Regions from separate parts of the Homo sapiens genome. Here all the other regions are reported to be linked to region 5. The links are microRNA targets in miRTarBase. Many come from high-throughput screens and were not tested one by one. Region 5 holds a microRNA gene; each other region holds the end of a gene's coding sequence.
The links. The annotated mature microRNA hsa-miR-6754-3p reads UCUUCACCUGCCUCUGCCUGCA and lies in region 5 at 1,841-1,862, opposite strand. An mRNA with a match to its seed (bases 2 to 7 or 8) in the 3' UTR can be bound and repressed. Matches are read on the target gene's strand: a 7mer-m8 pairs with bases 2 to 8, a 7mer-A1 pairs with bases 2 to 7 and ends in A, and an 8mer does both.

Region 1 (3,691 bases), not on the chromosome of region 5:
ACCTGCCTGGCCTGTATGTTGAAAATATTGATTCTGCATATAGCGGAGCACACCCTTTAAACCTATGGGAATTGAAAGTGGTAGTTCCCACCCTATATGGCTGGCACAGGCCTCCCTCAAACACCTAAGGTACAGCTGTGAACATTCCCCTTTTTCTTTTAGGGTAGGGAAGGTGGAGAGCACCCCATATCCAGCATAGAACGCAACAGACTGTCTTCCTCCGGTGATTTTTCTTTCCCCTTTACTTAACTTACCAGAGCTGGGAAAAAATGAGTTTCCCCAAATTAAATCAAAAGCACAAGAAAGGCCGGAGCGGCTGGTATTCTGAGGTCAGATGTAGGCTGCAGGGAGAGAACTTGATCAGGGCCAGTGCAGGGAGCCCGAGCACTGAGAACCCGGCCTGGGAGCGCAGGAAGGCGGGTGGTGAGCAATTCTACGGGTGTCCCGAGGGTATGAGGGGCGGTGCTGCTGGGAAGCCGAGCGGGGCATCCTGAGGTCAGGGCGCCAGAGGCTGCAGAACCCTGGAGGGTGTGGCTGCAGGGGACGCCCGGGCGGGACAAGGCAGGTAGGAGAAGAACCCAGAGGTGTGGGAAGAGGGTGTCTCCGAGTCAGGGCGCAGCACGGAAGTAACTCTGGGGTAGAAGGCGAGGGCGGGGCGGGGGAAATAAACTCCACAGAGACAATAACCTGCTGCTGCCCCCCAACACCGACTCAAAACAGCGAAACTCCTGGCCGCCGCCCTCCCCTGCAGCGCAGGCCCCAGTTACCCAACTCCTCCCCTGCGCTCCGGCGCAGAGCGGCGCAATCTGCCCGCCCCGCCCGCAGCCTCCCCTTCCAGGCCCCGGGAGCATTCCCACCCCGACACTCACACACCGGCAAACAGGAACACACAGTCAGGCTCCGGCCCGGAGTCCTCGGCCTCCCGGGAGGGGCACCCGACATCCCGCACGCCTGGTGCCGGAAGGGGAGAGCGTTTCCAATCTCCTGGACGACAGAACCAGAGAAAGCCGTGTCCCAGCCCTCTCTCCACAGTTCTATTTGATTTTACTACCTTCCTCTCTTTCCTTCTCATTCACTTTTCAATTGTCTTGCAACTTGTTTTCCAGGCAGTTTCTCTTTTTCTCTATCCTCCCCAAACTTCTTGTCCCTCCCCATCTCGTCGCTTGTTTTTTCTCTTCCTCTTCGCCCACTTTTTTTCTGCCTCTTCCCAAATTCCACGCTTTGGGCTTCGCGTCTGTCGCTCAACTTCCTTTTTCTGCACCCCGCGATCCATCCAAAATGTTCTTCCTGTCCCTGGGATTGGGCAGCCTCAGCCTGGCCCCTTTCAGTCGCGGGAGCCCCTGGCCTCTCCAACAGGAGAGAGAGAAGGTAGGGAGAAGTGGATGGGACCCCCGGCGCCCGGGAGCCGGGCAGAGAGCGCCCCGAAGCGCGCATTTCTCTTCGCCAGCGCCCGGGCTGCGCGGGCCCACGCGACATCTGTCGCCTGCGGTCCCGGCTCACACCCCGCGCACCCCCGCAGCTCCCTGGGCGCTGCCACCCCCCACGCTCCGGCTGCCGCCTTTCCCCGCGGGCGCAGACGCTCGGGCCTCGCCTTCAGGCGCCGCTCCAACTTCCCAGGGTGTCTGCGGCGCGCGGCGGGGCTCGGGGGCGGGGACCTAAGGGCGGCTGGCTATGTCACCTTCGAGCTTCACCTTCCGGCCCTAGACCCATCTATGGTGGGCTCAGCCTGATTCTCTCTCCCTCATTCTCTGCAGCGCTCCTCGCTACTCCAGGATCCAGAGTAGTAAGACGATGCTTACGCTGTGTGCTTCCTCAAAGCGCCTAGCACAGTGCCAGGCGCACAGCTAGGGCACAATGATCCCCCCACCCCAAGAGCCTAGTACCTTCCTCCCACTGATACCAACCACACTAGGTGCTCAGTACCCACTTCCTGTCCTAAGTTCTCAACACATGACCTCCCTAAACAGTGCCCAGCACCCCGAAGGAGCTCAATAAATGTTCCTTCCTTAAGGCTTCCCATTGGAGTTTCCCTGAAAGCCCCCTATTCCAGCCCACTCCGAGGGCGTCTCCTTCCCGTAGCAGCTACAACCGTCTGGGGAGAAGGAAGCCAAACTCCTTAAACAGGACACCTCACTCGAGAAGGAGCGAAGTTGGCAGGGCAGAGGAAAATTGCAAATGCGCGGAGCTTGGGAAGAAAGATTGGGCCAGCCAGAAACCTGGAGGGGGAGGAAGTCTCGAGATGCGCTTGGGGTGCCAGATAATGGGGATCAGAGATTGGAGAAGTGACACTTAGGGACAAGAGGTTGGGAGCAAAGGTGATGGAGACGGGGGCGACTCAGGAACGGCAAGAGGATTGGAACGGGACCGGGGACCTTTCTTGGAAGTGCGATAGATTTTAAGTATTTGGCGTGGCTTACAACTACATTCCCATAGCAAGCACACTTTTTACTTGCATTGTGTGTTTATTTGTGGGGCTGGTGGGGATTATGGAGGCTGAAGTCCTCCGCAAGCCACTGAGCTATAAGTGAGTAGCAAGATGCGCTTAAGGACTCGCAGAGATGGGGGCAGAAACGGTGGACCTTACACTTGGAAGGGAAGACTGGGGACTGGGTAGAAGAGGAGAGGTGGAGATGCTTGCAAGAGAAGAGAACGGAGGAAGAAGGAGAAGGGAAAAGAAGAAAGCCAAACTTGCCACTCTCCCGCTCCCGGGCCAGCCCAGCGTCTCCAGTGCCCAGCTGCCGCGCCCCGGCTCTCGCTCGCTCGCTCGCGTACCTGTTGCTCGCTCCGGCTGGGTCTCGGCTCCGGCCCCACCAAGAAGCCCCGCGTTCCTACAAGTTCCGCCTGCCGAGCAGCCAGGCCGCCAGCGCCGCCACCTGCGCGGCCGCGCACAGCCAAGGCCAGTAGGTGGGGAGCGCGCCGGGCGCCGGCGCCCTCCGGCTCCGCGCGCGGCGCCGCCACATGGTGCGCTGGTGCAGCTCGTCGCCTAGCGCCTTGAGCCGGGCGGCGGTGAGCTGCGCGGCGGACGAGCGCAGCCCCAGGCGACCCGCGCTGCAGGCGCACACGGCCGGGGGGCCGCGGCCGCGGTGCAGGGGGCACGGGCACATGACCGCTGGCCTCGCTCCCGCCCCGCGCTCGGGCCGCCCCTCGCCTCCTCTCCCTCCGGCCTCTGCGCCCGCTGCCGCCGCGCTCCAGCCGCCGGGGGCCTCCCCTGGACACCAAGTTTCTCCTTGTGTTGTGCGTTTGTTGTGCTGACGGCGCTATTATTAATTAAAGTGTCACATGGTGGAGGGGGGCGGGGAGGGGGGTTACATCATCCGGCCCCCGGGGGTTGGGGGGGGGGCTGCAGGCAGAAGAAACCGAGAGGTAACTTTTAACCCTAGCGGCGCCGGCAGCTAGGGAGCGCGAGGTTTGGGAGACGGGGAGCGCGGCGCGGGGCGGCGCGAGAAGGCTCCCCGCAGCGGAGGTCCTGGGCTTTGGGGGTCTCGGGGGACCCCCGCGGAGGCGCGGAGCGCGAGGGAAGGTTGTTCTCCTTCCCCTTTTCCTGAATTCAGCTCGAGTTCCGATTTGGCGAGGGAAAAAGGCTTGTTTGCCGTTTTGGATGAAGCTGATGCTGAATTCGGCTGCATTATTCAAAAATATTCCGAGGCTGTTGTTTTGTTTGGGGGAGGTGGGTGGATTCAAAATCTTATGG
Region 2 (3,691 bases), not on the chromosome of region 5:
CAGCTGATTAGTTGAGGGCAATGACTTCCATAGTCCTGCCCTTTTAGGATTAGGGTTTTGGGGAGGAGGTTTCTCCTTCATATAATGGAAATTATTTTTATAAATAGGGATTAAACAATATCCCTAAGTTTCAGGTGTTGTCTTTTCTTAGATGGAAAACCACATGAACAGATCTTTCTCTAGGTTACCTCTACTCACCTATCCCAGTGTCCTCTTGTTTTTGAGCCCACATAATCAGTGTTTTCATTTTGTATACAAAAGGAGAAAATAAATATATAGAAATTAGTATCATCTTTCTAATATTAAAGATGTGTGCAATGAAAGATGCAAAGTTAATCTTCTTATTACTGTGAGTTTGAGCACAATCCTTAAAGTTTCTTAGGAATGAATCACTCATTTATCTTACTTTATCATTATATTTATTTTCAATACTTGTTCTTTTCCATCCAGCAATCAGGCAGGAACTGAGCAAGTCAAATACTGCATAGAGGAACAGACTAAGGAGAGATAGGACTTTAATCTGGAGGAAAAATATCCTACAAACAACAACTGTTCACAACAGCAAACCCCTACATTTATGAGCTGTAAGAAGAAAATGGAGACAAACAGAAGGAGGGAAAAACCAACCTACTCTGAAAGCCTTCAGACATTATGACTCTGGTGATAAGCTCTTTCCCTCTCCGTTTGCTGCTTTTTTCTGGCCTTTACAACAGAATGGAAGAGAATCATTTAAGAGTTCCTGTAACAGTTATGCAGAAAATACTAAAACCCATCAGGCAAGATCACCACGCATTGAAATATTTTCATATCAAGATAAAGTCGCACATTTTCCACAATACATTGCTAAAATAAAGAGGAGAAAGGCTTAGGAAGTTTTTTTGCAGAGAGTGCTGGTAAAGAATTGAGCAAGTTTGCTATTGTATTGTAATGTTTCTCTCAGGTTTGTTCTTCCTATCATGTTTGATATTCCATGAATAATTGAGATCAGCCCTATGTAAGTTAAGATCATAATATGTGGAACAAATGGAATTGTAAGTGCTTTCAAAGGGTAATATTTATAAGAAAGTGTCCGAAAAATGTTTCTTCAGCTTGAGAAATTTTAGAATGATAGGAAGTTTCTCGAGTTAGCCTTCATGCAATTTTGTAGATTAAAACATAAAATTTGTCCAGAACTTAAAGATTTAGATGCCTTCCTAAATTGTTACAATGCTTTACCAAATCTATGACTTCTACATAACACAAACCAGTGGTCAAATGTAAACACTATATTGTAGATTTACTGTAGGTTTTCAACCTTTTTTAGATTTATGCATGTGGACATTTTTATAATGTAATTACAATCACCACAAGGTTAGCTTTTTTAATTGCAGACAGTAATGCATGTCACACTAATATGTAGTGGCCTTTTCAAGGCCTAGTCCCAGGGAAAACATTTTGTAGAGTATAGGGGAGTGGGAGGAAGGGGAGGAATAATTTTTTATTTAAAGTTGATTTCTGCACTATCTTTTTCTCAGTTACCTGCATGAATAAATAATGAGAAATATTTTGTGACTTTAATTGGTAAATATGTTACAAAACCAAGTACTTAATCTTTTACATCATGTCTTCAGCTATTTGTATTTTAACCAGTAATTTCAATGGTCTGAAACATGATTCTGAGCTTCACATAATATCTTAACTGTGGAACTCAAAAGTTTGATCACTGAATTTGGCAGTTATTATTACCTAGGTACCCCCGCTGTTACACAGGTGTTTAGATACGTGTTCCTGAATGAAGCTGCTTTTGAATTTTGTTATGTTGAAATGCAAGAAATAACAATGATGGCAGCAATTAAGGTCACAGAAATCATTAGGTAAAGGAAAACCAATGAGGAGTTCTGCAGTTTTCTTTTAATAAGTAAAGTGAGACTTGGGTGGTGGGAAGAAGGAAGGTGGGAAGAAGGAATTAGACACTCTGCCTGCCACTCTGCGTGTGTGTGCTCTCGCGCACGTGCTGTCTATATGGAAGCCACTCCCTTTTCTTTCCTTTGAAACTGGTAAGGTTAAAATAGGGGAGAAATCCTACATGTTGGAATGATAGCTTTTTGGAAAATTTAAGAAACTCTCCAGGCTCTCCATCTTGATTTATGCTTGAGTTGTTATGTGCCATATTTGCTTTGAACTCTGATTATCAGAAGTTTTACTAAAACTTTGAAATAATTCACTTTCATCTGCTTTCTAGATTTTGTACATCTCAGTCCATAAAGCAAAGCTTGTTGATAGTGTAGTTTTCTAAACGCTGCAAATTTGCAGCCTTTACCACTACAAAGAAGTTTGGATGAGGGATTTTTTTTTTCTTTGTCAAAATAGTTCCTGTTTCTGTAGAAATTTCATTTTTAGATTAAACTGTGATGGATGAGCTATCATAATTCAAGTATACATTTCTTTTTTCTATCAGATATTCATTGTCATGCAGTAGTAGTAAAAACATCAAAGATGCAGCAAGCTTATTAAGTATTATTTTCTAAAAGAAATAGGAGGCATTTTCATCTTTATTATTGTACTTTTGGTTATGCAAACACTTTGATAATATAAACAGTTATGTCCCCTATAAATCTGGTCAGCAACCTCTTTTGATTTTGTTGGGTAAGTTAAATAGTCTGTAGTAGGTAGAGTACTGGGTACAAGTGGTCCAAACTAAGATAAGAGACTAAAATAAAATGCTAAATCTTAAAAGAAACTGGGTTTATGCACTAAACGTTTTGTGCCTTGGTCTAATATTAACATGATGTATGTGTAAACTGACAAAAAAAAAAAAAAAAAAAAACCAGTGTTGAATCATGCTATATTTCCCATCATCCCAGATTGCTAAATGTTCTTTCCAAGAAGTCTGAATGAATTATTATATACATTTGCTATCATACATGACAGTTGTGTCATTATTAGAGATTTCAGTAATTAAAATGGGAAACAGAAGCCTAAGTTATTTACCTTATCAAAACCACGTTCCTTGGAACCACATTATTATGATGGTTTTTGTGCTCTTGTACGTTGGATGTCTTAAGCTGAGTACAGTTTAGGGGATCCTTTCTAATGACAGGAAGGCACTGCTTTCCTCAACACTGTGATCTGACCTGTGACAAGTCTGTACTATCCACTATGTAAATGGCTCACAAGTCAATTGCAAACAAACTGAATGTACAAATCTTAGTGCTGGTGCTGAAATCTCTTCAGAATAGTCATCATGATTTAAAAGTTTGTTTAAAAATTTGCAAGCATCAAGTGTCAATCAAAACTGAAGATGAAACACTAATGAATGTTGAATTCTCATGCTTTTAGGTGTACTTCCTTTTTAGAATTTTCAGTTTTCTGCTATTTTTACCGTAACTATTTCGTTTAAATTTGTTTCATTTAAGTTTCCTACACGCTAACTTCGTTTGTGCGATTGAAATAAAATTGCAGTATATATATGTTGCTTGTTTGTGACACTTAGATAATCTTCTGAAATAATTTGTTTTAAAGTAAGTTATATTGGATGTGAAAAACACCTTTTAAAGTCCAAGACTTTACTACTTAAAAGTTTACATGTCACGTCACTATTCTTTACAGATTTCATAGAAGTCGTGAATACTAAGTAATGTATACAAAAGAAATATGTGATGATGTGTCTACTTTTTGTTTGAAATAACTGTTGGGTGTTCCCTCTTCTTAT
Region 3 (3,691 bases), not on the chromosome of region 5:
GACGAAGTACCAGTCAACTCTACCCTGGAGATTCATCACAGAGGAATCTCCCATGGCCACCCTGTCCTATGAGCTCACCAGCTCCACCCTGGAGATATTAACAGTGAACACTGTCAAGCAGACACCTAACCACATCCCCTCAACGATCATGGCAACCACCCAGCCTCCAGTAGAAACCACTGTTCCTGAGATCCAGGATAGCTTCCCATACCTGCTGTCTGAAGACTTCTTTGGACAGGAAGGCCCCGGGCCAGGTGCAAGTGAGGAGCTTCATCCCACCTTGGAGTCGTGTGTGGGGGACGGATGTCCTGGCCTCAGCAGAGGCCCTGTGATCGCCACCATTGTCACCGTCCTGTGCCTACTGCTGCTCCTGGCAGGTGTGGGGATGGTGTGGGGCTACCGCAAGTGCCAGCACAAGAGCTCTGTGTACAAGCTGAATGTTGGCCAGCGGCAGGCTCGGCACTACCACCAGCAGATCGAGATGGAGAAGGTCTAGGCACCTTTGGAGTGGGTTCTCCCAAAGCCACTTGGGAGGAAAATAACTGTGACACATCACACGATAATTCACTAGAGCATGACGCAGGTGGACTGAGGCTCATCATTTTTTCCTCAGCCCTTTGTTTTATAGGCTGAGAAGTGTCTCTGGAGCACCTGGGAGGGCAGGGAGGCTTTGGTGACATCATCACTCATGTCAATGTCTCCTCCACCATCTGCCCTGGAATTGACTACACTAATCCCAGACCTGTGCTTGGGCCCTGTTTCCAGTGTGAGGTCAAAAATCGCCTCTTCCTTCATCACAGTATTATCTTTTTTTTTTTGAGACAGAGTCTCATGCTGTTGCCCAGGCTGGAGTGCAGTGTCCCGATCTGAGCTCACTGCAACCTCTGCCTCCCAAGTTCAAGCAATTCTCCTGCCTCAGCCTCCCAAGTAGGTGGGATTACAGGCATGCACCACCATGCCCAGCTAATTTTTTTATATTTTTAGTAGAGATGGAGTTTCACCATGTTGGCCAGGCTGGTCAAGAACTCCTGACCTCAAGTGATCTGCCCTCCTTAGCCTCCCAAAGTGCTAGGATTCCAGGTGTGAGCCACATCACAGTATTACCTTTTTGAAGAAAGAAAATCACCAGCTTCATGCCCTGAAATTTTATAAATAGTCATGATAAACCAAGTGTATGAGAGCAGTATTATCTAGGACATGGATATTGAATTATTGGGAGAGGAATATGGAAGAATAATGGGTTGTTTCCTTTTAATGTTGTGATGTTGCTGAGGGCAGATGAACCAAGAGCCAGGACACAGTCTAGAAGCTTTGAGGTTTCTTTTTTCATTGTTTCTTGAAATTAGAATTTAAGACTGACATTTTGTTGGGGGAGTTGAGGAGTGAAGAAACACACATCCCCCTCTGTTCCCTCCATTCTGTGGGACAGTCTGTCATTTATTTTATTTTATTTTCAATATTTCATGGTTAAGGATTTGCCATTATTTTTTAAAAACAAAGTTAGCTTTGTACCAGTAAGTACCATTTCCTCTCAGAAGCAGTGGCCTAGTTGTCCTTGACCAGTCTGTGCCTAGGAATGTCTTGGAATTTTTGCCAGGACTAACAAAACTCAGTCCTTGGTTTCCTCTCTCAGGATTAACCATTTCTCTGAACTCCAGTAAGAGAGAATGACACGGGAGAAAAAAAAAAGAAATGTTTTCAGAGGGCCGAACACCAGGTTATCAAGTATGGGCACATACTTGATGGAGAAGCAGAAGAATCTGTGAAAGAATATGAAATGATCTGTGCTGATCTGTTCTCTAGTGTGGAAACTGGGAGCTCTGTGGAAACAGAATCCATCCTGTCTGTTGGGTAACCCATTTCGTAGCATCTAAATCATCTTAGGGTGGCTCAGCGAGGATGGTTTATGGCAGTGGTTCTCAAAGTGTGGTCCTCAGACCAGTAGCATCAGCGTCACCTGGGAATTTGTTGGAGATGCAAATTCTCTAGTCCCACCCTGGACTCAGGAAACAGGAACCCTGGGAGTAGGGCCCAGTTCTGTTTTTAACAAGCCCTCCAGGTGATTTTGATATGCACTCAAGTTTGAGAGCCTGTTGGTTTATAATAATCTCAAATGTGAACTTCGAGGCCAGCTGAAGCCCTAAAGGCACAGATGAGTATGTGGTGTGTGTTGTGTGGAAGTCAGGCATGGCTGTGTGCAGCTGAGGTGGCATTTGAAGCTGCCTAAATGCCACCTGCAATAGTCTCCTGTATGTTGGCACAGAAATGAAACATGTTATATTTTTCTAATATGAATCACCTTCTTAGAAATAGTTATCAGTGGTAAAAAGTGATGAATGCAACACATTTATTTTGAGACACCATAGCAGTCTAAGTGTTTTTGTGTGGTAGAGGGAAATCCTGATCTTTTTTATGATTGAAAAATTGTTGGTGGTGTTTTACCTAAGGAAAAAAAACATTCGCAACATGTTTTCTACCCTGCCACCTCTTTTCAGCAAGCTTTGGAAAAGTAATAGGCGAAGTAGCTGTAAAGAGAGGCAGCATAATCAAAGATCTTATTCCCCATAGTTGGGTAAAATAAAGCCTGAAGGTACCAACTAGAATACCTGTGCATCAGACGAAGTCAAGAACAATAGGAATAAAATGCTTTCTGCATGTAGCCAAAGCAAAACATAATAGAATAAAAGCCAGAGACTGTATATATTTATAAATTAGATCCTAATCTACTGCAAGATAACTTTTCTATTTTTAACTATATAAAATAACCTCTGTCTCAGCATTGGGACTGTGTTAGCAACTATTATTGTGGAATAACCCAGAACATTGGATTTATACCAACAAATAGGCAATATTAATACAGTGTATTAATAAATTTATTACAAATTATTAATACAGTGTATTAATAAATTTATTACAAATTATTAATACAGGTAAATGTTTTATTTGTAGACATGGACTGTGAAATAAACCCAACACATCAGTTTTTAAGTTCTTATTGGTGTGGTATCCTCTAAATTAATGTTATAGAATCTAAAAATTCATGTTGAAAGGGAATGATTAAAACAATGTAAATCTAAATTGTATGTCATGCATGTTTTGAGAATGGTGAATGTTTAATGCTCATGAAAATTGGGGGAGGGGGTTCTATTAACACAAAGCTTCTGAGATATTTAAAATAAATAATTATTGCCCCAACAGTTGCTGAATGTATTTTATTTCTAGGCTACTGCACCAAGGTTTAAAAAAAGAAAAAAATTCTCGCTGGGCACAGTGGCTCACACTGGTAATCCCAGCACTTTGGGAGGCTGAGGTAGGCAGATCACTTGAGGTCATGAGTTCGAGACCAGCCTGGCCAACATGGTGAAATCTTTTCTGTACTAAAAATACAAAAATTAGCCGGGCGTGATAGCATGCTTGTGGTACCAGCTACCCAGGAGGATCAGGCAGGAGAATTGCTTGAACCCGGGAGGCAGAGGTTGCAGTGAGCTGAGATCATGCCACTGCACTCCAGCGTGGGGGACAGAGCAAGGCTCCATTCAAAAAAAAAATCTCTAGTAATCTTGAAAATAATGTCTTAATACTTGCTATATCTAAGATCTAAGACTGCCCTTTCTAAACCTAACTCTCAGTTATGTTACCTCCTGCAGCAGGATTTTAGGGAAGTTGGTGGCACTCTTGCCCCCCCCTCCCT
Region 4 (3,691 bases), not on the chromosome of region 5:
CAGGAATCCAAGGCTTCCCCCACCTCAGCAGGGCTCATCTGTATTGTGGTTATGGGTTTCCAGGTCACAGCTCCAGCTCTGATTCCATCCTCGGCCCTGGGAGAGTTTAACTTTTCTGGATCCGCTTCTTCCCCCGGGAAATGGACAGTGTGACAGTACCTGCCTCAAGGGGCACATGAGACAGCTCTGCCTGAGAGTGAGCAAGGTGGGGCTGGGTCCCCCCTAACGCCCAGACCCCCATGGAGAACCCCTTCCCAGCCCACCTCAGTACCTGGAAGCTGAGTACCCCTATGCCTTGCAGTGCCTCTCTTCTGGAGTGACAGGATGAGGGTGGGGGCTTCACAGGAACCAGGGCCTGGCATGCAGCCTTCATGTTTTCCCACACCTTAGGTCATCTGCACCTTGGTTACACCAGTGGGCCTGATGTCCTTGAAAAATATCATAGACGGGTAGGTGCGGTGGCTCACACCTGTAATCCCAGCACTTAGGGAGGCTGAGGCAGATGGATCACCTGAGGTCAGGAGTTTGAGACCAGCCTGGCCAACATGGTGAAACCCCGTCTCTACTAAAAATACAAAAATTAGCCGGGCGTGATGGTGGGTGCCTGTAATCCCAGCTACTTGGGAGACTGAGGCAGGAGAATCGCTTGAACCCAGGAGGTGGATGTTGCAGTGAGCCGAGATTGTGCCACTGCACTCCAGCTTGGGCAACAAAGCAAGACTCCGTCTCAAAAAAAAAAAAAAAAAAAGAAAATACCATGGAGGGCCAGGTGCGGTGGCTCACGCCTGTAATCCCAGCACTTTGGGAGGGTGAGGTGGATGGATCACTGGAGGTCAGGAGTTTGGAGAGCAGCCTGGCCAACATGGTGAAACCCTGTCTCTATCAAAAAACACAAAAATTAGCTGGGCTTGGTTGTGCGTGCCTGTAATCCCAGCTACTCGGGAGGCTGAGGCAGGAGAATCGCTTGAACCCGAGAGGTGGAGGCTGCAGTGGGCCGAGATCGCGCCACTGCACTCCAGCCTGGGTGACAGAGCGAGACCGTGTTTCAAGAAAAAAACCCACAACAAACAATGGAGACCAAACCCAGGGCCCATCAAAGGGGCCTCTAGAGGCTGGCAGGGCAGAGTCTAAATCCCAGCCATGCCCCTCCCAACTGTGTGGCCTTGGAGAAGCCCCTCAACCTCTGGCATGTGCTGTCTGAACTTGGGTTCTTCACGGTGCCCCAACCAATACCAGCCAGCCAGTTCCCACGACTCCCATCCGATGGCAGCCTGGGAGCCCATCTGTTCCTGTCCTGCTGGGCCCACCAGGAACTGGCCACCTCTGCTGGATGGGTGGCTGCTGCAGCTGACATTTAGGCTCCAGAGGCTGGGCACTGAATCAGGGAGGCCAGAGAGGGCTGCCAGGACAGCAGGCGCTCCTGGCCAAGTGAGGCTCTGCTGGGAGCTCCCTGTTTGGTGGAGGATCAAGACAGAACTTTGAGGACAGTGTTCCACCCATATTCTGCACCCTTCTTGGCTGAGGCCACAGGGCAGACCCCCACCCACCGGCCCTGTTCTTCCAAGCCCGATCCCATATGAGCAGGCGTCCCATGCACACACTTCTCAGGCACTTTTTATTTCATGCTGTGCGGGGGCCCCTTGTCCCAGATTTGTGGCCACGTGTCCAGGTGTCTGGGGGAGTGGGCCAAGCCTGAGAGAGGAGGGCCCTGCTCCAGAGATCCCCAGGTTGTCCCTGTTGACCTATAGGGAGGTCTGACTTCAGGCGTTGCCCTCCTGACCCGTGAGCAGTCCTGAGTCGCTGGCTCCTATTCTGTCACACGGGGTGGGTAGTGCCAAAAGCAGCCTCCTGCAGCCCTTGGCGTCCGGAAGAGTGACAGCCACATTCAAGTCTCCCTGGCACGTGAGGTCCATGGTGCCCCTGACTCATGTCCTGGCTCCAGCCAATAGCCCAGACCCCCATGGAAGGTTCCAGCATGTGCAAAAATGCACATTGGCCAGGTGGCTGCCCCCCGGAGACATGTGTCAGAGAGGCACGGGTCAGGTGACCCAAGTGTCCAAAACTCTCATGGAGGGTCCCAGCCCATTGGCCACCCCAAGCCAACCACAGCAGGGTCTGAGCCTCAGACGCGCAGTGGCCTAGTGGCTTCTGCTCTGACAGCTCACGTCCAGGTTATAAGGGAGACGGGCAGCGTTAATAGAAAACTTTGTACATACACATATAAAAAACCATTTGGTCTTCCATTAAGGCTGTTACAGTTTAAAGTTACGTAAACCACGTACAAAGAAACAGTTAAACGTACAAAAAGGGGAGTGGGGAGATGTGAGGCCGCAGGTGGAGATGTGGTGCTCCCCACAGGTGCGTCCATGATTTGGGGGCTGCGTGCGAGGGGGCCTGGCTCCAGCCGGCCTCTCCCTGCCTTGACTCTGCACTTGGGGCCGGTGCCCACCTCACGTCACTCTTGAGCTTTTGATTCTGGATCCTTCTCTGAGGGCCGAACACTAGCTCTGCAGCTCTGGCGCCCAGCTCCAGTGCAGGGGCCGTCCTCGGACATGCAGACTTTGTCAGCTGTGGCTCTCAGCCATTGGTCTGGCCCGAGGCGGGGGGCAGGCAGTACGTTGGGGGATCCGAGTACCTCCGCTTGGCCCCAGGTGGCTGGCCATCCTCTTCTAGGGGCTCCAGGGCGCCCTGCACTGGCAGGTCTGCCCCGGGCGTGATGTACACGGAATGTATCTGGTCCGGGCGGCGGGCAGGTGGCTCCCGGCGCCGCACTGGGGCAGCCGCCTCCCGGGCACCCGGTGCCCAGCGAGGCAGGTGGGAGGGCAGGCCTGGTGGGAGCTTGATGTTGGCCGTGGGCATGATGGGGGTCCGCCGGGGGGTCTTCACTCTGACCGTTACGAAGGACGACGGCCTTCGTCGTGGAGGGGCGGCCACGGTGGGGAGGGGGCTCGGGGTGGGCGCGCCGGGGCAAGGGAGAGCAGGCGCAGGGGGCCCTTTTGAGAGACAGATGGCAGGGTTACTGCAGCTTCAGGGCCGGCAGCCGGAGGACCCTCGCCCTGGGGCCTGCTGGGATGGACGGGAAGGAGAAAAGCAGACGCTACCTTAATACTGACCTTCCGAGGCCCCCCGCCCGGCCCGCTCCTCCAGCAGGCTCTCGGTGCTGGCCGACGTCTCCGAGTCCAGGTTCTCCTCGTCCGAGCCCCTTGGGTCCAGCTCCGGCAGCCGGTAGGTGATGTCCTCCCTGGAGGAAAAAGGGTAGTGGTGTCCAAGGCCACCCCACCGGAAGTGCTGGGCCAGTGTGGAACAGAGCAGGCTGTCCTGCTCCTAGATGTAACTCTGTGTCCCCAACCTCCCCCCACCCCAAGCAGGAGGATTGCTTGAGCCCAGGAGTTTGAACCCAGCCTGGGCAACATAGGCGGACCCTGTTCTGCAAAAAGTAAAAAAAATTAGCCAGGCGTGGTGGTGTGCACCACCTGTGGTTCCGGCTACTGGGGAGGCTGAGGTGGGAGGACCCCGTGAGCCTAGGGGATTGTGGCTGCAGTGAACCGTGATCGCACCACTGCAATCCAGCCTGGGTGACAGAGAAAGACCCTGTCTCAGAAATAAAGGCCGAGTGCGGTGGCTCACGCCTGTAATCCCAACACTTTGGGAGGCCAAGGTGGGTGGATCACTTGAGGTCAGGAGTTCAAGA
Region 5 (3,691 bases):
GATAGCAATGGCGCTTCCGACCTGTAACTCACAGCTCCCCCAGGGCCCTCCCTCACGCAGCTGGCCGCTGTGTGCTCAGAGATCCCCACAGAACAAAGCCTCCCTGACCAGAGTGTCCTGGGGTCTCCACTTCTGCTTCCCAGGACTCAGGGGCAGCGTGGCATAAGGCCTCAGATGAGTATATGTGGCCTCAACACCCAAGGAAGACAGACAGGGCCTTGAACGGCCTCACCATACATGGGATCCCTGGACCTGTCTCAGGGGCCATGGAGCCTGCTAATTTCAAAGGAGTGGCTTTGGTTCCCTGCCAGCCCTCGGAATTCAAACAAACCAACGACACCCACCCGCAGGGGCCAGGCGGCACCCATCCTCTCATCACCACAGAGCCCGCCTCCCACAGCGGGGGCCGTCCCCTCTGTTCCTGAGCACACTCCCACCTGGCCCTGCGTGGCACGGAGCCCTCCTCCCGCACTGTGGGAACGCAGGACTCGTAAGCTGCCCTCAACCTCATCCGTCCACTACTATGTGCTGTGTGTCGGGGTTCAGCTGTCTCCAGACCCGAGGGCGGGAGGTCCCCCCTCACCAACCAGGTAAATTTGAGGCCATCAGAGCAGGCGGGACCCCTGGGGGCTTCTCCACAGGGGCCCTCACTAAGCACCCGGCTTACAGGGGAGAGCCAGGAGCAGGCGGGACCCCCGGGGGCTTCTCCACAGGGGCCCTCACTAAGCGCCCGGCTTACAGGGGAGAGCCAGGAGCAGGCGGGACCCCCGGGGGCTTCTCCACAGGGGCCCTCACTAAGCACCCGGCTTACAGGGGAGAGCCAGGAGCTCGGTCTCTGCACAGAGAACCCTCCCCCAGGCATGTCCAGGCCCGCTCATTACCACGTCATCCAGAGAAAACTGGGATCCTTGAGCAAAGACGCTTCCGTTCATGGCAATCATGGCACAGCCGTCGTAGTACAGGCGGTCCCCGTCACAACCCTTCTGGTTGGCCAGCAAGTAAATCCCACCGTTCTGAAAAAGGAGGACCCCATAGCGGAGTGGTCAGCTGTGTCCACCACCCTCACCTGCCACCTGCCCAAGTACAGGAACCTCCGCCGAGTCCCGCTAGGTCATCCTGAGTGGTCCCACCACCGCAGAGATAACGCATATGTGTGGGGAAGCACAGACCTGTGAAGCTGCGGCGAGCCCCGCCTTGCTAGGTGCCAGGCTCTACACAAAACATTTGTTTTTCCTTCACAACAACCCTACAAGGCAGACCCCATCACCTCCCTCAGGCATGATGAGGTTCAGACAAGCCAAAGAAAGCTCTGCATGATGAAGCCAAGACTCAAACGCGGCTCAGCTAGACCCACATCTGCCCCGTGAAGGATGAACCAGCACTGCCCCTCGCACGTCTCACTGCCCAACAGCAGGAGCAGCAAACGTACGGGTGTTCCCTACGCCTCACCATGATGCCAACGAACAAGGAGCACGTTCCGGTTCCTGGTCATGGCAGAGAGGGTGACAGGGTTGCTTCATAGGGTGGCTGCGTGGGTGAGATGGGCTGTGCCGGCGAAGCCCTGGAGGGCAGCAGGGCACACTTGTTGAGTCCAGGCCATAATTACTAGCCTGGAACATCCATTGTGTGTGGGCCCAGCCCTGCGATGGGCACTGAGGATGCAGGAGTTCTTGAGATACAGTGTCTGCCCTGTGGCGCACGCTCCCTGGCCCAGCCCCTACCTTGCTGGTGACCATAGTCACGAGATCCACCCTGGTGTTGGCTTTGCGCAGCACTTGGTGGCTGCCCGAGGCGTTGGTGATGATCTCCACGCCATCCAGGCCCATGTCGATGTGCGGGCTGCAGGCAGAGGCAGGTGAAGAGAACAGGCCACCAGACTCCTCCAAACCAGCCTCCCTGGCAGCCCCTTGCACTCTCCCACGGCAGCTCCCAGCCCACGGCCACGGCCACGGCCACGGCCCCAGGACGTCTGCAGTCCCAGGTCCTCCCAGCTGGCCCATATGAGGTGGGCGATCAGACAGCACAGGGGCATGGGGCTGACCTGTGGGGTGTCCAGAGCTCCTCACAGATCTCACTTCCAATGCAGGTGTCCCATGTCACCAGCACCGCATCTCCGAAGGGTACGGTTTCCTGCAGTCGGAAGAGAAGAGTGCATGAGATTCACTAGCCATGCCCTGTCTGGGCCACGCACTACCTAGGGCCACGGACATCCTGCAGCCACAAGAGCTGGAGTTGGCTCTGGGCTCTCGCACATTCCGAAGAGGTGGGTGCCCTGCGGCTGCGCATGGGACACCGGGTGGTGCCAGGCAGAGACGCCCTTAGGAGCCTATGTGTGGAAGAAGGGGACGCCTGTACTCTGAGCAGCCAAGGGGCAGAATGTCACGGACATCGATGGGGCTGCCAATTGGGGCCAGCAGCTTCTGAAGCGACCCTGTCCTGTGATCACACTGAAGCAGCTGCTGCCCTGTGCTGATGAAGCTAGGCCCCCACTCCCAGCCACAAGGCAGTGGCTGAGAGGGGACACCAGGGTGCCTTCCCTTAGAATTCAAAATTGAGAGTAGGGCATTTTGCTGTTGGTCTAGATAACACTTAAATGTCAGAACATAGCCCCTGGGGATGGAGAAGGCTGTCTTCTGCCACAAGGAGGAAATGAAGAGGAGGAAGCCAGTGTGAGTGGGGGAAGGGAGGAAAAGCAGCCCCAAGGCAAGGAGGAGCCACCCTGGCTGCTGTCTGGCCACGCAGCCCCCCTCACTATAGGAACCTGCCTCCTTTGTCTGTTTCAGACCTGTGAGCACTGTGGTGCCTTCCATTACCTGGATCCCAAAGCGTTCCCGCCCCACCTGGTCCACTGTTGGCCGAGAACAGCGACAACCGACTGAAAAACGGGCTCCACACCCAGGGACTCACCTGCTTTGTCAGGTCCTGTATCATCCGAGGCAGAAAGTACTCCTCTGTGTGCCTGGAGAGGAAAACACCGAGGAGCTGAGGATGAGCATCTCAGGACAAATGAGGAATGGCGGCTACATTTAAACAAAACTCAAACTGAACCCTCCGAACTGATGAACTGGCAAAGGAACTGCCAAGCGTTCCCCCCAATGCAATAAACAATCGCATTCAGGTAAAAAGAAAAGAGTATGAAGGTGGCTTGAGGAGACTATGTGACATGGTGGTGGGCTGGGCTCTCCGAGCTTCGGGCTGCCTCAGTTTCCCCACACGCTCATGTTCATCTTTACTGAGAGATGTGTCACAGGGGATTTGCTGAGAACTGGCCACGTTGCCTCATGGAGAAATCCAGGTGGAATTCCTGATCGCTGTTACTGAATCAGAAAAATCGTGTGGCATTAACCCGAAACACAATGACAAACCAGTATCATCCCTGGAATAAAATGATGCTCTCAATTCGAGAAATCAGGAGGAGGGTTTAATACCAACTTTAGTGCAAGGTGTCCCAAGAAGCTCCACCAAGAGGCGGAATCTTCAAAACAGACAGTTCACGCATTTGACTTCCAATAGGCTGTTACGAGATGCACCACTCAGATCTGCAAGGAACTCCGTTTCCTTTTTGCTTTCTTAGAATTCCCAGGAGCCTTCTGGGCATGGTTTTAGTAGTTCTCTCTACTTAAGAAATGTTAAAGGTTGAGAAACTGAGTCAATGATGTCTTTCCCCCTCATTCACGTAGGGAACGGGGAC
Region 6 (3,000 bases), not on the chromosome of region 5:
TTCATAATCATTCAAAAACATCAGGCCGGGCACGGTGGCTCACGCCTGTAATCCCAGCACTTCGGGAGGCCAAGGTGGGCGGATCACCTGAGGTCGGGAGTTCAAGACCAGCCTTTGGAGAAACCCCATCTCTACTAAAAATACAAAATTAGCCAGGCGTGGTGGCTCACACCTGTAATCCTAGCACTTTGGGAGGCCGAAGCAGGTGGATCACCTGAGGTCAGGAATTCAAGACCAGCCTGGCCAACATGGTGCAACTCCGTCTCTACTAAAAATACAAAATTAGCCGGGCATGGTGGCGCATGCCTGTAATCCCAGCTACTCAAGAGGCTGAGGCAGGAGAACCACTTGAACCTGTGAGGCAGAGGTTGCAGTGAGCCAAGATTGTGCCATTGCACTGCAGCCTGGGCAACAAGAACAAAACTCCGTCTCAAAAAAAAAAAAAAATCATTAGTAGCGTTCTCTGTCAGTTTATTGTGGAAAGAAATCAAGTAAACAAATTCTCAAAAAGATTTGCTTCAAATAAGAGAACACTGTTTAGGTGGAAGATCTCCTTTTTCAGCACGGTCTTCCCAAGGTAACAAGGGGGTTGGGATTGACTTGGGTGTGTCTGACATAATTGAGAAAGAAATTTAGTCTGCAGGTTAAAAGTGAAGCTGAAATCCAGGAGTTAATGTTTTCCTCAATGGCTTATAAAAAAATTGAAGAGTGACACAGTTTTCTCATTTTAAAAGTGGCTAATTTCTAATGCTAATACTGGTTATGCAGAGTATTAAAATTTCTGATAAATGTTTTAGTAAAAACTAATTCTCTCCATGTCTGTGCATATATTATTTAATAATATGATCCTTAAATGTATGTGATCCAACCAATCTGTGGCAAATCATAACCTCCAAGACTATATACAGATTAGAACTACGTACAGATTATGTAAAATTTACTCTTGTGACACATGAGTTATTTTAATTGAATTTAAGTTGCCACCCCAATTAAAAATTATTTCATATTTTAAAGATAAGATTTTAGAAATATCTTCTACAGAATATTAGTATCTGACTAGGAATGTAAGTCCATTATGTTTCATGTACAGCTTCCTCACTCCTATCTGGACTTTTTAACTTTCAGAAGTTTAAGGAAATAAATAGCACGAATGATAGAATGAACACAAATATTACCACCACCCAGAATTAATATTTCGTTATGTTTACTTAGAATGTTTCTTTTTAATAAGAAATAGATACAAAATTGAAGTATCCTTTAACTACCATGCTTGGTAACATTTCCCTTCCACCTCCTTTCTTCCTAGAGGTAACCACTCCACTTTTGGGAACTGAGTATATACATATCCTTTCAATCCATTCTTTAGTTTTACATAATTTATCCATAACCAATTCTTAGTACTAGGGCTGGTTAGTGTTGATTTTATTCAAATTCACAGAAGCATCATTACAATATGTTCATCATTTTTCTTCACTCTAATTTTTTAAAAATATTTCTGTTAATATATAGACTTAATTTGTCACTTAACTGCTAGAGAGTACTCTACTATGTTACTATCACATTTTATTCATCTATTTCACAAGAGACAGCATTTGTTTCCCAACTTCTGGCTACTATAACTCATGGTGCAATGAACTATACAGCTATAGACCAGTACATGACTCCCTGTGTTCATGTTTCTTGGGTAGATGCATATATATAGTAGTTCCCCCTTATCCACAGCTTTGCTTTCCATGGTTTCAGTTACCTGTAGTCACCACAGTTCATAAATAGTTGAGAACAGTACAATAAGGTATTCTGAGAGAAAGATCATATTCACATAACTTTTATGATTACAGTATATTGTTATAATTGTTCCATATTATGTTTATTATTGTTTTAAATCTCTTGCTGTGTCTAATCTGTAAACTAAATTTTATCATAGGTATGTATATATAAGAAAAAAACATAGACATAGAGTTTGGTCCTATCTGGGTTTTAGGTATCCACTGGGGGTCTTAGAGTCCATCTCTTGCAGAAAATAGGGGACTACCATACTCAAGAGTGGAACTACCGGGTATTCTGGAATGTTTTAGAAGTTCTTTCCTGCCCTAAGGTTTTAAAAACATCTTCTTATAAAACTGTTATATTATTAAGTATTGCTTTTTGCATTTTAGTCTTTAGTACTTTAAGAATTCATAAGAAAAATATTTTATATTATGATGGGAGATATTATTTTTCCATATGAAGAGTCAATTAATTTTTAAGTAATCCATGATTTCCCCACCAATCTGGGATACCGCCTCTATCAATTACCAATTCCCCATATATTCATGCACACATTTCTGAATTCAATATTCTGTCTCAGTCTCAGTTTTATGACTGCTTCAACAACAAATAATTTTGATGATTCTAGTTTTACAATTCATATATGTAGCAAAACATCACAAAAATGATAATTTTGTCTCTTAATTTCAAATCCTCATACATCTCATATCTATTTCTTAATGCATCTGTAGGCCTTCCAGGAACACATTAAGTAGTGTCCATGACTAGATCCTAACTTTAATGAGTATACTCCTAGAAGTACAGCATTGATAATGCTTGTTGTGGGAGTTTTGGGGGTACGGGTTTTCTTTACACTATAATACTTATTAAACATCATAGTATTTAAGTTTTGAATTGCTGCTGAAGGACTTCCCACATTCATGTCACTTTAATGTAAAATGAATTTTCCAATACACTATTAAGTGTAAAATCTGCTGAACGTTTTGCTAAATCCAAGGCATTCATAGAGAACTTTAATGAGTATGAATTCTCTGGTGTCTAATGTGATGTGACTTTTGGCTGAAAGCTTTCCCACATTCACTACACTGATAAGGTTTTTCACCAGTATGGATTCTCATGTGCAGAGCAAGGGTTGAGAACTGAGAAAAGGCTTTCCCACATTCATTACAACCATAGGGTTTCTCACCTGTATGGCTTCTCATATGCACAGTAAGAGATGAGCTTTGACAGAAG

Region 1: the mRNA of HRK is a reported target of hsa-miR-6754-3p. The part of its 3' UTR that is shown has no 7-base or 8-base seed match.
Region 2: the mRNA of ENAH is a reported target of hsa-miR-6754-3p. The part of its 3' UTR that is shown has no 7-base or 8-base seed match.
Region 3: the mRNA of SUSD5 is a reported target of hsa-miR-6754-3p. Seed matches in the 3' UTR shown: 7mer-A1 at 1,383-1,389.
Region 4: the mRNA of MYO9B is a reported target of hsa-miR-6754-3p. The part of its 3' UTR that is shown has no 7-base or 8-base seed match.
Region 6: miRTarBase lists ZNF260 as a target of hsa-miR-6754-3p. Seed matches in the 3' UTR shown: 7mer-A1 at 1,468-1,474.

Annotation. Positions count from the first base shown.
Region 1 is chr12:116,878,204-116,881,894 of GRCh38, forward strand. It overlaps HRK (harakiri, BCL2 interacting protein), which reads right to left and starts at 3,238. Exons shown (of 2, transcript NM_003806.4): 1 at 2,773-3,238. The coding sequence starts at 3,104. The coding sequence ends at 2,829. RefSeq lists silencers at 1,767-1,967, 2,846-2,925 and an enhancer at 3,431-3,691.
Region 2 is chr1:225,494,572-225,498,262 of GRCh38, reverse strand. ENAH (ENAH actin regulator) reads left to right here. Exons shown (of 14, transcript NM_018212.6): 14 at 451-3,691. The coding sequence ends at 488. Among named protein-coding and RNA genes, the nearest start is that of LINC02765, 29 kb to the right of the region's middle.
Region 3 is chr3:33,149,547-33,153,237 of GRCh38, reverse strand. It overlaps SUSD5 (sushi domain containing 5), which reads left to right. Exons shown (of 5, transcript NM_015551.2): 5 at 1-3,195. The coding sequence ends at 496. Among named protein-coding and RNA genes, the nearest start is that of CRTAP, 37 kb to the right of the region's middle. RefSeq lists an enhancer at 1-423.
Region 4 is chr19:17,211,197-17,214,887 of GRCh38, reverse strand. It overlaps MYO9B (myosin IXB), which reads right to left. Exons shown (of 40, transcript NM_004145.4): 39 at 3,114-3,241; 40 at 1,602-2,993. The coding sequence ends at 2,578. Among named protein-coding and RNA genes, the nearest start is that of USE1, 2.3 kb to the left of the region's middle.
Region 5 is chr11:71,471,717-71,475,407 of GRCh38, reverse strand. It overlaps MIR6754 (microRNA 6754), which reads right to left and starts at 1,905; the gene lies at 1,840-1,905. It overlaps NADSYN1 (NAD synthetase 1), which reads right to left. Exons shown (of 21, transcript NM_018161.5): 6 at 2,908-2,959; 7 at 2,042-2,130; 8 at 1,722-1,839; 9 at 882-1,013. RefSeq lists enhancers at 1,267-2,173, 2,174-3,081.
Region 6 is chr19:36,511,220-36,514,219 of GRCh38, forward strand. It overlaps ZNF260 (zinc finger protein 260), which reads right to left. Exons shown (of 3, transcript NM_001166037.2): 3 at 1-3,000. The coding sequence ends at 2,781. Among named protein-coding and RNA genes, the nearest start is that of ZNF260, 16 kb to the right of the region's middle.